Homo sapiens: one gene and its partner. The protein of the gene in region 1 interacts with the protein of each later gene in a biochemical or structural test. Each region holds a gene or a part of one and is shown in the gene's direction. Other genes may lie near its edges.

Region 1 (7,038 bases):
ACACCAAACAAAGTACAAAGCTGCTTTTGTAAGTGTGTAGATGTCAAGAGCAGAACATATCTATAATATTTAATGTGTGAACAGCTACTGTGACATGCAAAGGAAAGGACAGTGCAGAATTAAACCGTGTTGAAGACCAGTGGAAATTGTATAATTTAACTTGGATTTAGGCAGGAAGTGAAATATGGGAGGAGTAAAGAAAACTGAAGAATTTAAAGTTTTCCTGAAGACAGTAATAATGCAGACACAAACTGGTTTCATATGGTGAGAGCAGCCACAGCAGCAGCTTGACCTGGTATTCTACCTGAGTAGATGAAGCAGAAGATCAGCAAGTTTGGCAGAGTTTTGGTTTAAGAAAAACAAACCACTACTACCTAGCACAAGTTAAATTTACAAGTCTGCTCCTCAAAAATGAAAAAATGGAGGAAAGAGACTATAAAACCACTTTTAGCATATGAATTGCAGTTGGTACACATGTGTGTGTTAATAGGAAAGTCTCGAATTTGTGTTGTTTTTGAGATTTGTCATTTAAGGTACCAGTGCACACTTGATCATATTTCATTACTATCTCTAACACAGTCCTAACATCTCAAATTTAAAGACCAGTTGAAGATTAAGGGATTTTTATCCTTTGTTGAAAGTCATGTTGGGTTATTTGAAATTCAAATTTTAATTGTGCTGCCCATATATGAAAATGAGACTGCTGACTCGCTATCTATGGACATGCACTTTATGTTGGTTTCTTAGTAGTAAGAGTAACTTCATGATAACCCCAGTCTTCTTGCCTAATTTCTTTTTTGAGACTAGCTGGGGTTAGGATTAGAATGACTATGGAGCAGATATTTGTTCTTCTGGGAAAAGCTTTAACAGGCCAAAATAGGGATTGAACTTGTCCTTGGCCTTTATCAAAGCAAGCTAGCTACCCAGACGTAGTCAAATACTCTACAAAATAAACAAGTCTGCTTTAGGAATTGTCTGGGTACCTTCACTGTTACCAACTTAGCTGTAAAGATTATTTCAAAGCTCACTCTTCCATGATTTCTTCTGGCTTTCAATCCTATCTAAGTATCAAGGAAATTAACTTGTAAATATGGTAGTTGTTTACTAAGGATATGTACTGCTCTTGCAAGGAAATAATGTCCAAACAAAGCTTCACTTATTTTTTTTAATATAAGCAGATTTCACTGTTTATGGCGCTTATGTAATACATTTTATCTTTTTAAAAATTTGTCCGTGTAAAAGTCAGGATTCCTTTATATTTGTGAGCCTCCTTTTCTCCTTTCCTAAGGATGTAATCTACAGTTTTCAGATCTGCAGGGTAGTCTTGATTGGCTAAAAACAAATCAATTTTCTTCTTGGCATAAAGTGTTTCATTATTATAGGGGTGTTCATTTTAAATAGTTTAAAAACAATTGCAGCACATTCTAAGCATAAGAGAAAGTTATTGACAACAGGTACCTTCCTAATCTCCCAAGACGTACTTACTCATTTGTGAAGTATTAAAGTAAGAGGTAACTCAAGCAGAATGCTGGCTATGAATGTAGATATTGAAGCTATTCATAAACACTGGAAATAGAATTTTAAGCTTTTAGCCTTCAGTGGAATGCACATATTGGACATGTGCATGTGAACACCTTTTTCAGTAGCACTCACGGATTTCCATTCGATTGTATAGAATGAATACAAGTGTTTTAGTGGAATTTGCTACTTAATTTTTAATCTTGCGATGTCCGTGATTATTACATGCTTACTAGTGTTGTGGACATTGAAGACAAGGTCATTCGTAGGTGTCAGATTACAATGGAGAACAAAAATCGTTTTCCCCCCACCCACATCCAAACACCATTCTCGAGGGAGCATTTCTTGCAAAACACCTTACATTTCATTTTCTATCTTTGCACTTTTTCTTAAGTACAGAAAAGTTGTCTTTAAGACCTAGTTTGAACTTCATGCAGTAAGAGGAACAAGGATAAACAATGTTGGGAGTTCACATTGTTCAGAGCATAAGGAAAAGTACCAAAACCCAAATTTTCTTGAATATTTCAGATGTTTTTAAAAACTCACTTCTAGTCTGAAACATTTGAATTGTTTTAACTCTGAGCAGCTGACAAAGTTGAGGTTTTTTTGTTTTGTTTTGTTTTGTTTTGTTTTTTTGAGACAGAGTCTTACTTGGTTGCCCAGGATGAAGTGCAATGGAGCGATCTCGGCTCACTGCAACCTCTGCCTCCTGGGTTCAAGCAATTCTCCTGTCTCAGCCTCTCGAGTAGCTGGGATTACAGGCGCATGCCACCACACCTGGCTAGTTTTTATATTTTTAGTAGAGATGGGGACTTCACCGTGTTGGCCAGGCTGGTCTTGAACTCCTGACCTCAAGTGATGTGCCTGCCTCGGCCTCCGAAAATGCTGGGATTACAGGCGTGAGCCACCATGTCCAGCCAAAGTTGAGGTTTATTAGTACTATTAGAAACAAAATTGAGCAAGTTAAGTTAAAAGTTTGCTGACTTTGTATCAACACTATAGAAGATGAGCCACCTTGTTAATTTGGAATATTTGCTCTGAAAAGAACATGTTAGTTACACCTTAATGGTGTTAATGGAGGTGGGGATTGAGAAAAGTGTTCACATTAGTGTTGGAATGTAGGTAATTGTACAGTTTATAAGACCTTTAGCACCAGGAAATAAAATATGTGTGTGTACACACACAGTTTTTAAAAACGATTGGAATTCATCCAAACCTTAAGATTAGGAAACTGATTGGCTGTAAGTGTTGCCTCAAGTAATGTGTCCCCCGCCCCATAACATGTCTTTTCTGTGCCAAGTATCCTCTCCTAGTGTCAGTGTCTCAAATTATATTTATGAAGGGTTATCACATAATATGCTTTGTATTTAACTACCTGCTTCCCAGGCGTCCATGACATGAAATGGGTGAAGCATCAGCCATGACTTTCGGTCAGTTCCCAAAATACCCAAATGATAGGGAGGTAAAGATTGCAAAATTCCTCTTAAAAGGCCATTTTTACAGCTTGCTAAAATACAGTGGCACCTTATGGTTGTTAATATTTTTTCTTTTAAAGATGGAGAATGTTTTTATTCTTCCCCTTTTCTCCTTTGTTCTTTTGCGAACAAAAAAAATTATAATCTGCCTTATTTGATTTTTTTTTTAAGTTTTACCTTACAGGCTTCCCTGTCACATGTTTTACCATATTAAGTACATAGAAGCCATGTTTGCAGGGCACTTTTATTCTCCTAGTCTTATAAGACTATGCTAATTGTTACTTTCTGAAGTATTCTGTACCTTAGTATGCAAGATTGTTAAGGCACATGTTAAAGTGTCAGGTGTGTTTTTTTCCCTTTAATTCTTCAGTATGTTTATATTCAATAACAGTATTGTAATTCATTGAGTTAACTAGTAAATTGTGTGCTTTTGAAAAAACATGAAAAATGTAAATTGACAGCATACTTCATTTGGAAAAAAGTAAAAGATCCGAGGAACTAGTATGTCACTTATTTATTTTTATTTTATTTTATTTTTTACTTTTTGAGACAGGGTCTTGCTCTGTCACCCAGGCTGGAGTGCAGTGGCATGGTCACAGCTCACTGCAGCCTTGACTTCCTGGGCTCAGGTGATTCTCCCACCTCAGCCTTCCAAGTAGCTGGGACTACAGGCATGCACCACATTGCCTGGCTAATTTTTTGTGGAGATGGGGTTTCGCCATGTTGTCCAGGCTGTTCTTGAACTCCTGGGCTCAGGCAATTTGCCTGCCTCATTCTCCCAAAGTGCTGGGATTATAGGCGTGAGCCACTGCGCCCAGCCTTACTTATTTTTAAATCAGATTTTTTAATCAACTAAAACAGCTATGAGTTAAGTACCTGCCCTGCAAAAATTTTTAGAAAAAGTTTTAGGATTATGAAATTAAGAATTATTTTCCTTAACTGGAACAGTTCTAAAATTTATCTGATACTTCTCTAACAAGTGAGTGATCTCATGTAACCCCAGTTTGTATCTTAAAGGCTGCAGCATAGAATTGAGCTGTATAACAGTGTTAGAACTGTCAAGTGATAATCACAGAACAGTTTGTATCGGTTTTATAATTCTCATGTCTTGATCAGATCTGAAGGAAATAGGCATACCCTCCAACATTCTAAAAATTATTTATTTTTATTAGGATTTGTTTATTAAAGTTCCACGAGCTGCTTTATGGTCAGTTGGGCTGAGTAGTAGATATCTTAAAGACATGCAGTGAAAGTGAACCCTGTCATATCATGGTGCCTCTTTCAAGGTTCCTCTGTAAGTTCCTCATCTTGCAGAATTATTTCAATACCAAGGTATGGTTGAACCAGCTGTCCAGCCTTAACTCTATTTAGTGCCCCATTACTAATGTTCTTTTAACTGGTTTGTATGTGTTTTAACTGTCCAGTGTTTGGATTTTACCTCTTGATAGCTCCATTTGTCCCTGGTGCTGCTTTTAAGGATGTAGGGCCATGTGATCAGGTATCAAGTTGAGTAGGTACGCAGTTGGCCTGGTGATGTATCTGTGCCTGTTTTATCTTCTCCCAGGAAGAGCTGCTTTGGTATAGTTGTTTACTTGGATTCATACAAAGAACAGGGCAGCAATCTTGGAAAGCTTTCTGAAGCTTATAAGAACCTGAAGGGGTTTGGAGGGGGAACAGTAACAAAGGCTGCCTTTATGTCTTTGGTCACAAAGCACATAGATGTATGTTCTGTAAAGACTAAAGTGATTGTTATACCAGGGCTTCCTGACCTTCGGGAGAGACTCAAAAAAGCAGAGAGGAGCACAAAGTGAAGTTAATTTGGTTGGCTTGCTTTATCTGGTTTCTCATTTTCTTTCAATTTAAACCTGAACATAACACCCTTCTCCGATACCTATCCAGCAGACTCCTGGTTGGGAAGCCCTGTATTAAATTTTGAGAATGTACACAGTTTTCTTTTGTACAGTGCTTTACAACTGCTAAAAGTTAACTTGTTTAAAGCAAAACAAGACCTTGAAAGGTCAATCATATTAAAGCTGGTTTGATTATTAATAGTTATCTTTTAGGAAGAAGCTTTTTTCCCTATGTAAGATGTCATACTGCAGATTTAAAATATAGACTATCAATAAAATGCATGAAGTGATCATTTGTGCTTGATCATCTCTCCTTGGGTTTTTCTTTAAAAAGGGGAATCTGCTATAAAGGTTCTGTTGCTTCAAACCAATGTCAAATAGACTTGATTTTTAGAGTCATGGAATTACAGTGCAACCTTGATTTTTATTCCCCTCACTGCTATGAGTGTGGGCAGGTACTGGTTTATATGTTATAACTTCCGTTTTATCTGTGTTGTGTAGTTGAATGGCTTAATCGTTGAGTGGTAAAATAAAAGATTATATTCCAATACAAGAATCCTGGAAAGATTTATGTGAATGACATTTTAAGTAGGCGCATCTTTGCTGTTTCTTGTATTCTCGCCATTGCTCTGACCACTCCCTTGCTTGCCCTGTATATATACAAAAACTTGTAGGTGTGCACGTGTGCTTGTACTTCTGTCTTCCATTTCTATCTTAATCTCTTAAACATATTGCTTAAGCCACTAAGATGTCCTTGTTTCAAGTAAATCGTCACATTGTGACACCTGGTGTATTGTATTATAGTTTCATTTCCTCTGGTGCCTGCAGAGCTATCTGTCATTGGCATCATAACTCGGTTTCTCAGGATAGTTTTGATGTAGTCAGCTCTTCAACTCATGACCTTCCCAAGGTTTTAAGTTTAGTGTCATTCATGATTTTATTATTTGAAACTCAATACCACCATCAAAAAGTTAGTGCTCTAGACAATGAAGCCAAAGCACAGGCATCTTAGGTCAGTGAAAAGGATCCAGACATAAATTAGCCAGGTGTGGTGGTACACAGCTGTGGTCCCAGCTACTTGGGAGGCTGAGGTGGTAGAATCACTTGAGCCCGGGAGGTCAAGGCTGCAGTGAGCCATGATCATGCTGATGCACTCCAGCCTGGGTTACAGAGCAAAACCTTGTCTCAAAAAAACCCCCAGATACCTAGAAGAAAGGATTCGATAAATCTGGGTGGATTATAAACTGAACTCTTAATGGTCATTTTAAAAAATAAGAAAGCAAGGGTCCAGTTTCTTTGAGGTCTTTGAATTTAGACAAGATTTAACTATAAGGCCTTGCATGGATTACTAACTATAATTAAATTAGCTAAACTTTTCTGGTTGCTGTCAGGCATTGTATTAAGTATTCTATATAAATTATTTAATCATCACAGTGACTGTGAGGTGAAAGTATACCACCCATTTTATAGGTAATGCAGCTGAGATACAGATGTTTGGTAATTTGCCCAGGTCACATAGTAAGTAGCAGATTATTTGCAATCATCTTTGATGCAGTCATCTTCCTTGTGCTCTTAATCCCACTACTATATGACTTCTAATTTGTTTCTTAGTATTTATCCCAAGCCCTAGACTAGATTGCTTATGAGGTGTGATTTCTTAGGAAAAACATCAGTTTTGGCTGGTTTGCCAAGAAAAAAAAAGGCCAAATTGGTTTTTGTTTATTTTTTTGTTTGTTTGAGATGGATTCTCGCCCTGTCGCCCAGGCTGGAGTGCAATGGTGCGATCTTGGCTCACTGCAACCTCTGCCTCTGGGTTCAAACGATTCTCCTGCCTCAGCCTCCCGAGTAGCTGGGATTACAGGCGCCCGCCACCACGCCCAGCTAATTTTTCTATTTTTAGTAGAGACAGGGTTTCACCATGTTGGCCAGGCTGGTCTTGAACCCCTGATCCCATGATCTGCCCGTCTCGGCCTCCCACAGTGGTGGTATTACAGGCGTGAGCCACCACGCCCGGCCGCAAATTGTTTTTTGTTTTTTTGTTTTTTGGAGGATTAATGGTAATATACTGTAAATTCAGTAAAGCACTGGGCATTACCAGATACACCTTAGCACTATGAATAACATGAACTATCATTTTAGCAGTTTAAGTGTACCTTGTAATCAGCCCTAGGGCAAACGGTATCAAGGTGTTTTAT
Region 2 (7,038 bases), on another chromosome or scaffold:
CAAGAGAACGGCATGAACCTGGGAGGTGGAGCTTGCAGCGAGCTGAGATCTTGCCACTGCACTCCAGCCTGGGCGACAGTGCGAGACTCTGTCTCAAAAATAAATAAATAAATAAATAATAAATAAAATGTTTGGAATGTTGGCTTCATCCCTGGGATGCAAGGCTGGTTCAACATACGCAAATCAAGAAACATAATTCATCACATAAACAGAACTAAAGACAAAAACCACATGATTATCTCAATAGATACAGAAAAGGCCTTCAATAAAATTCAACGTTGCTTCATGTTAAAAACTCTCAATAAACTAGGTATTGATGGAAAATATCTCAAAATAATAACCATTTATGACAAACCCACAGCCATTATCATACTGAATGGGCAAAAGCTGGAAGCATTCCCCTTGAAAACTGGCACAAGACAGGGATGCCGTCTCACCACTCCTATTTAACATAGTATTGGAAGTTCTGGCCAAGAAAATCAGGCAAGAGAAACAAATAAGGGGTATTCAAATAGGAAAAGAGGAAGTAAAACTGTGTTTGCAGATGACATGATACTATATCTAGAAAACCCCATTATCTCCACCCAAAAGTTCCTTAAGCTGATAAGCAACTTCAGCAAAGTCTCAGGATACAAAATCAATGTGCAGAAATCACAAGCATTCTATACACCAACAATACACAAGCAGAGAGCCAAATCATGAATGAACTCCCATTCACAGTTGCTAGAAAGAGAATAAAATACCTAGGAATACAGCTAATAAGATGTGAAGGATCTCTTCAAGGAGAACTACAAACCACTGCTCAAGGAAATAAGAGAGGACACAAATGAAAAAACATTCCATTCTCGTGGATAGGAAGAATCAATATCATGAAAATGGCCATACTACCCAAAGTAATTTATAGGTTCATTGCTATTCCCATTAAACTACTATTGACATTCTTCACAGAATTAGAAAAAAACTACTTTAAAATTCAAATGGAACCAAAAAAGAGCCCGTATAACCAAGACAACAATAAGCAAAAAGAACAAAGCTGGAAGCATCACACTACCCAACTTCAAAGTATACTGCAAGGCTACAGTAGCCAAAATGGCATGGTACTGGTACAAAAACAGACACATAGACCAATGGAACAGAATAGAGACCAGAGAAAGAAGACCACACATCTACAGCCATCTGATCATCGACAAACCTGACAAAAACAAGCAATGGGGAAAAGATTCCCTATTTAATAAATGGTGCTGGGAAAACTGGCTAGCCATATGCAGAAAATTGAAACTGACCCCTTCCTTACACCTTATACAAAAATTAACTCAAGATTAAAGACTTAATGTAAAACCTAAAACTATAAAAACCCTAGAAGAAAATCTATTTAATACCATTCAAGACATAGGCACAAGCAAAGGTTTCATGACAAAAACATCAAAAGCAATTGCAACAAAAGCAAAAATTACAAATGGGATCTAATTAAACTAAAGAGCTCCTGCACAGCAAAAGAAACTATCATTAGAGTGAACAGGCAACCTACAGAATGGGAGAACATTTTTGCAATCTATCCATCTGACAAAGGTCTAATATCCAGAACCTACAAGGAACTTAAAACAAATTTACAAGGAAAAAAACAACCCCATCAAAAAGTGGACAAAGGACATGAACAGACACTTCTCAAAAGAAGACATTTATGTGGCCAACAAACATATAAAAAAAAGCTCAACCTTACTGATCATTAGAGAAATGCAAAGGAGAACCACAATGAGATACCATCTCATGCCGGTCAGAATGGTGATTATTAAAAAGTCAAAAAACAACAGATGCTGGCGAGGCTGTGGAGAAGTAGGAACACTTTTACATTGTTGGTGGGAATGTAAATTAGTTCAACCGTTGTGGAAGTGTGTGTGGCTATTCCTCAAAGATCTAGAACTAGAAATACTATTTGTCCCAGCAATCCCATTACTGGGTATATACCCAAAGGAATATAAACCATTTTATTATAAAGATACATGCACATTTTTGTTCATTGCAGCACTCTTCACAATAGCAAAGACACAATAGCAAATGCCCATCAAAGATAGACTGGATAAAGAAAATGTGGTACATATACACCATGGAATACTGTGCAGTGCAGCCATTACAGCTTTTGGTGATACAGTGAATCAGATTTTTCATTAATTCTTTTAATTGGTTATTACTGAACGTGAAAAAGTAATGTTTGTATTGAAATCTTGAGTCTGGCCATGTTTCTATTTTAAATTCATAAAGAATTCTAACAAGAGGAATTCCAAGAATGTCATAAATGGATGTTTCTCCATGGATGAAGGAACTGTTTTATTCACTTGCTGATAATTCAGCCTAATCCAGTTTGACATCATATAGATAAGTAGTTGAATTATGGATTTAAAATACATATCATTTTCTAACTCCAAAGGTAATACTTATTTAAATGGTTTTGAAAATATAGAAAGGCACAATTTCTTTTTAAATCTGTTATTCTCCACCACCACTCAATCTGTCTATCATCTATCTCTCCATTCATTCTTCCATTTGTTTATATCTGTTAATCTTTGTATGTGTTCATGTATAGCTTTTACATGATTGGAATCATAATGCATATTCCATTTTGAAGTCTGCTTTTTTTTACACAAAAATATGTTGTGAATATTTTCCTATATTATGAAATATCATTAGCTGAGCTTTTAGAATTGACTGCATGTTTTGGTACCATTTAGATATAGTTTAAGATACTTAGAAGTTATGTGGCTTTGCCACTATGGATGAATCTTATTTACTCAATATTAATTACTTACAAATAACCTCACCTAAACACTACTCAGCCATAAAAAGGAATGAATTAATGACATTCACAGCAACCTGGAGACTATTACTCTAAAGGAAGTAACTGAGGAATGGAAAACCAAACATTGTATGTTCTCACTCATAAGTGGGAGATAAGCTATGAGGATGCAAAGGCATAAGAAGGATACAATGGACTTTGGGGACTTAGGGGAAAGGGTGGGAGGGGGGTGAAGGATAAAAGAATACAAATTGGGTTCAGTGTATACTGCTCAGGTGATGGGTGCACCAGAATCTCACAAGTAACCACTTAATTACTTACGCATGTAACCAGATACCACCTGTTCCCCAAACACCTATGGAAATAATTTTGTTTTTTTTTTTAAAAAAGGAATGAGATCATGTCCTTTGCAGGGACATGGATGAAGCTGGAAGCCATTATCCTCAGCAAACTAACAGAGGAGCAGGAAACCAAACACCACATGTTCTCACTTGTAAGCGGAAGCTGAACAATGAGAACACACGGACACAGGGATGAGATCAACACACACTGGGGCCTGATGCAGGGGCCGTAGCGGGGAGAGCATCAGGATAACTAGCTAATGCATGTGGGGCTTAATACCTAGGTGATAGGTTGATAGGTGCAGCAAACCACCATGGGACACGTTTACCTATGTAACAAACCCGCACATCCTGCACTTGTATCCAGAACTTAAAATATTTTAAAAATCTTTAGAGAATACAAAAAAAAAAAAAAAGATTCTTCAATGCATACACAATAAAATTGCAGTTCAGTCAAACATTGGAAGTCTTTCTCTGACTGTCTAGTTGGTATCTTCATTTTCAGCTTCTTCAAGATCCCACTCCAAACACTGTTAGCTCAGCCAAATTGAACAGCTCATATCTCCTACCTCTGGATCTTTGGTTCTGGTGATTGTATATTTCTGGACCATCTGGAACCCCAGCATATCACCCTACCCCACATCTCCACATCCCCAAAATATAACCATACTTCAAGGGCAGTTCAAATACCATCTCCTTCTATCCTCCATGAAGTCAGTTATCTCTTCCATTGGAATTATCGCCCCCTCTCCTGAACAGTACTATTTCGTGTGAATCTCCTCCAAGCCTTCTTTTCATTTTATATCTCATGCTGTAATTCTTGGAAAGTATGCTGTAGCTCAAGTGCAGAATTCTCATCAGTTTTATCTTTATATCTCTCCTAAACACTTTACCTGATGAAGAGCCTGGCATACACATAAATATATATTGAATGAATCAGTGATGGATTGAAAAGAGAAATGATGGATCTCCTAAATTTTAACTTTTATAAAATATTTTGATACATTCATGACCTTACTTTAGCAAGCAATGAACGTGATGTAAACTATTGTTGATATAGTTTTTATATTGGAAGTGTAAGTAGTTTGTGGCATGGGATTGTGACATATCCTAGGTTTCCTCATCTTCTTTTTATTGAAATGTAATTCACAAGCCATAAAATTTGCCCCTTTAAAGTAAATGATGCAGTGGATTTTAGTATATTTACAGAGTTGTGCAATCATCACCACTATCTAATTCCAGAACATTTCCATCTACCTAGAAACTCCATACCAGTGAGCTGCCACTCTAATCCTCCTCTTCCCCCAGCCTCTAGAAACAATAATCCATTTTCTGTCTCTATGATTTGCCTGTTCTAGATATTTTATAAAAATAAACATGTGGCCTTTCGTGTCTGACTTCCTTCACTTAGCATGTTTCAAGGTTCATCTATGCTATAGAGTGTACCAGTGCTTCATTACATTTTATGGCTGAATAATACCCTATTGTGTGGATATACCGCATTTAGTTTATTCATCAGTTGATCGAAATTTAGACTGTTTCCACTTTTTTGCTATTATGGATGATGCTGCTATGAATATTCGTATATGAATTTTTATATGGATATATGTTTTCAGTTCTTCTGGGCATATACCTTAGAAGTGAGAGTGCTCATCATATAGTAACTCTATGTTTAGCCTTTTGAGGAACTGCCAAACTGCTTTTCAAAGTAGTAGCATCATTTTATATTCCCACCAGCAGTGTATGAGGTTTTTTTTATTTTTTTGTTTTTGAGACGGAGTCTCACTCTGTCGCCCAGGGTGGAGTGCAGTGGCGTTATCTTGATTCACTGTAACCTCTGCCTTCTGGGTTCAAGCCATTCTCCTGCCTCAGCCTCCCTAGTAGTTGGGAGTAGCTGGGTTTACAGGAGCTCGCCACCATGCCCAACTAATTTTTGTATTGTTTTTTGAGACGGAGTCTCGCTCTGTGGCCCAGGCTGGAGTGCAGTGGTGCAATCTCAGCTCACTGCAAGCTCCGCCTCCTGGGTTCATGCCATTCTCCTGCCTCAGCCTCCCAAGTATCTGGGACTACAGCCGCCCTCCACCACGCCCGGCTAATTTTTTGTATTTTTAGTAGAGACAGGGTTTCACCGTGTTAGCCAGGATGGTCTCTATCTCCTGACCTCGTGATCCGCCTGCCTTGGCCTCCCAAAGTGCTGGGATTACAGGCGTGAGCCACCGCGCCCAGCCAATTTTTGTATTTTTAGTAAAGACAGGGTTTCACCATGTTGGCCAGGCTGGTCTCGAACTCCTGGCCTCAGGTGATCTGACTGCCTTGGCTTCCCAAAGTGCTGGCATTACAGACATTAGCTACTGTGCCTGGCCTCAAGTCCTTTCTCATTTTAAAACTGCGTTATTTTATTTTATTTTTCTGAGATGGAATCTCACTCTGTCGCCCAGGTTGGAGTGCAGTGGTGCAATCTCGGCTCACTGCAACCTCCACCTCCTGAGTTCAAGCGACTCTCCTGCCTCGGCCTCCCTAGTAACTGGGATTACAGGCACCCACCATCACGCCTGGCTAATTTTTGTATTTTTAGTAGAGACAGGGTTTCGCCATGTTGGCCAGGCTGGTCTTGAACTCCTGAACTCAGGTGATCTGCCTGCCTCGGCCTCCCAAAATGCTAGGATTACAGGCGTGAGCCACCACACCCGGTGGGTTGTCTTTTTATTGTTGAGTTGTAAGCATTCTTTTTAATATTCTGGATACTAGTTTCTTATCAGGTACAATCTTTGTGAATATATTCTCCCATTCCATGGATTGTCTTCTCACTTTCTGGATACTATACAGTACAAGTTTTAAATTTTGATGAAGTTCACTTGATTTCTGTTTTTTATGTTATTGCTTATGCTTTTGGTGTCATACCTAAAAAACCATTGTCTAAATCAATTGCCTATGAGGTGTTACCCCTATGTTTTCTTCTAAAGTTTTATGATTTTAGCTCTTTGACCCATTTTGAGTTATTTTTGTGTATGCAGTGCGAGATAAGCATCCAGCCTCATTCTTTTGCACATAAATGTTCACTTGTCTTAGCATTACTTATTGAAAATACTATTTTTTCCCTATAGAATTATTTTATACTTATCACAAATCAACTAACTATAAGGGTTTATTTCTGGACTCAATTCTGTTGCTCTATCTTATGGTAGTACCACACTGTCTTGATTATTGTAACTTCGTAGTAAGTTTTGGAATCCAGAAATGTAGTCCTCTAACTTTGTTGTTGTTGTTGTTCTTCTTTTTTCTTTTGTAGAGATGAGGCCTTGCTATGTTGCCCAGGCTGGTCTCAAACTCCTGGCCTCAAACAATCCTCCCACCTCCACCTCCCAAAGTGCTGAGGGGTGAGCCACTGCAACTGGCCTGTTCTTTTTCAAAATTGTTAGGGCTGTATTGGGTTTACCTTTCCCTAAATTTTCATATAACTGTTAGGATTCACTTGCAAATTTATGTAAAAAGGGCCTCTGGAATTTTGATAGTGATTACACTGAATGAGAGGAGTTTGGCAGGACTGGTTTCCCAAGACCACAAGACCCTGTAAGACCCTGCTGATAAGACAGGATGTGGTAGAAAGGCCAACCCAAACCAGCCAAAACCATGATGGTGACAGAAGAGACCTCTGGTTACCTTTGCTGCCCATTCTATGGTAATTATAATACATTAGCACGCTAAAAGAAACTTCTACAGCACCATGATAGTTTACAACTGCCATAGCAACTTTCAGAAGTTACCCTGTATGGTCTAAAAGGTCCAGACCTCCCCACTTCTTTCCTGGAAAACTCATGAATAAGCCACCTCTTGTTTAGCGTATAGTCAAGAAGCAACCATAAATATAGCCAGTCAGCAGCCCATCAGGGCTACTCTTCCTATGGG

Evidence for each region. The genes of interacting proteins can lie anywhere in the genome.
Region 2: the proteins of RLIM (region 1) and CFLAR form a complex in vitro, tested with the Homo sapiens proteins (one study listed by BioGRID).

The regions. Positions count from the first base shown.
Region 1 is NC_000023.11:74,583,587-74,590,624, reverse strand, and holds part of RLIM (E3 ubiquitin-protein ligase RLIM), read left to right. Parts: 3' UTR 1-7,038. UniProt on the Homo sapiens protein: E3 ubiquitin-protein ligase.
Region 2 is NC_000002.12:201,168,147-201,175,184, forward strand, and holds part of CFLAR (CASP8 and FADD-like apoptosis regulator), read left to right. Parts: 3' UTR 1-7,038. UniProt on the Homo sapiens protein: Apoptosis regulator protein which may function as a crucial link between cell survival and cell death pathways in mammalian cells. Acts as an inhibitor of TNFRSF6 mediated apoptosis.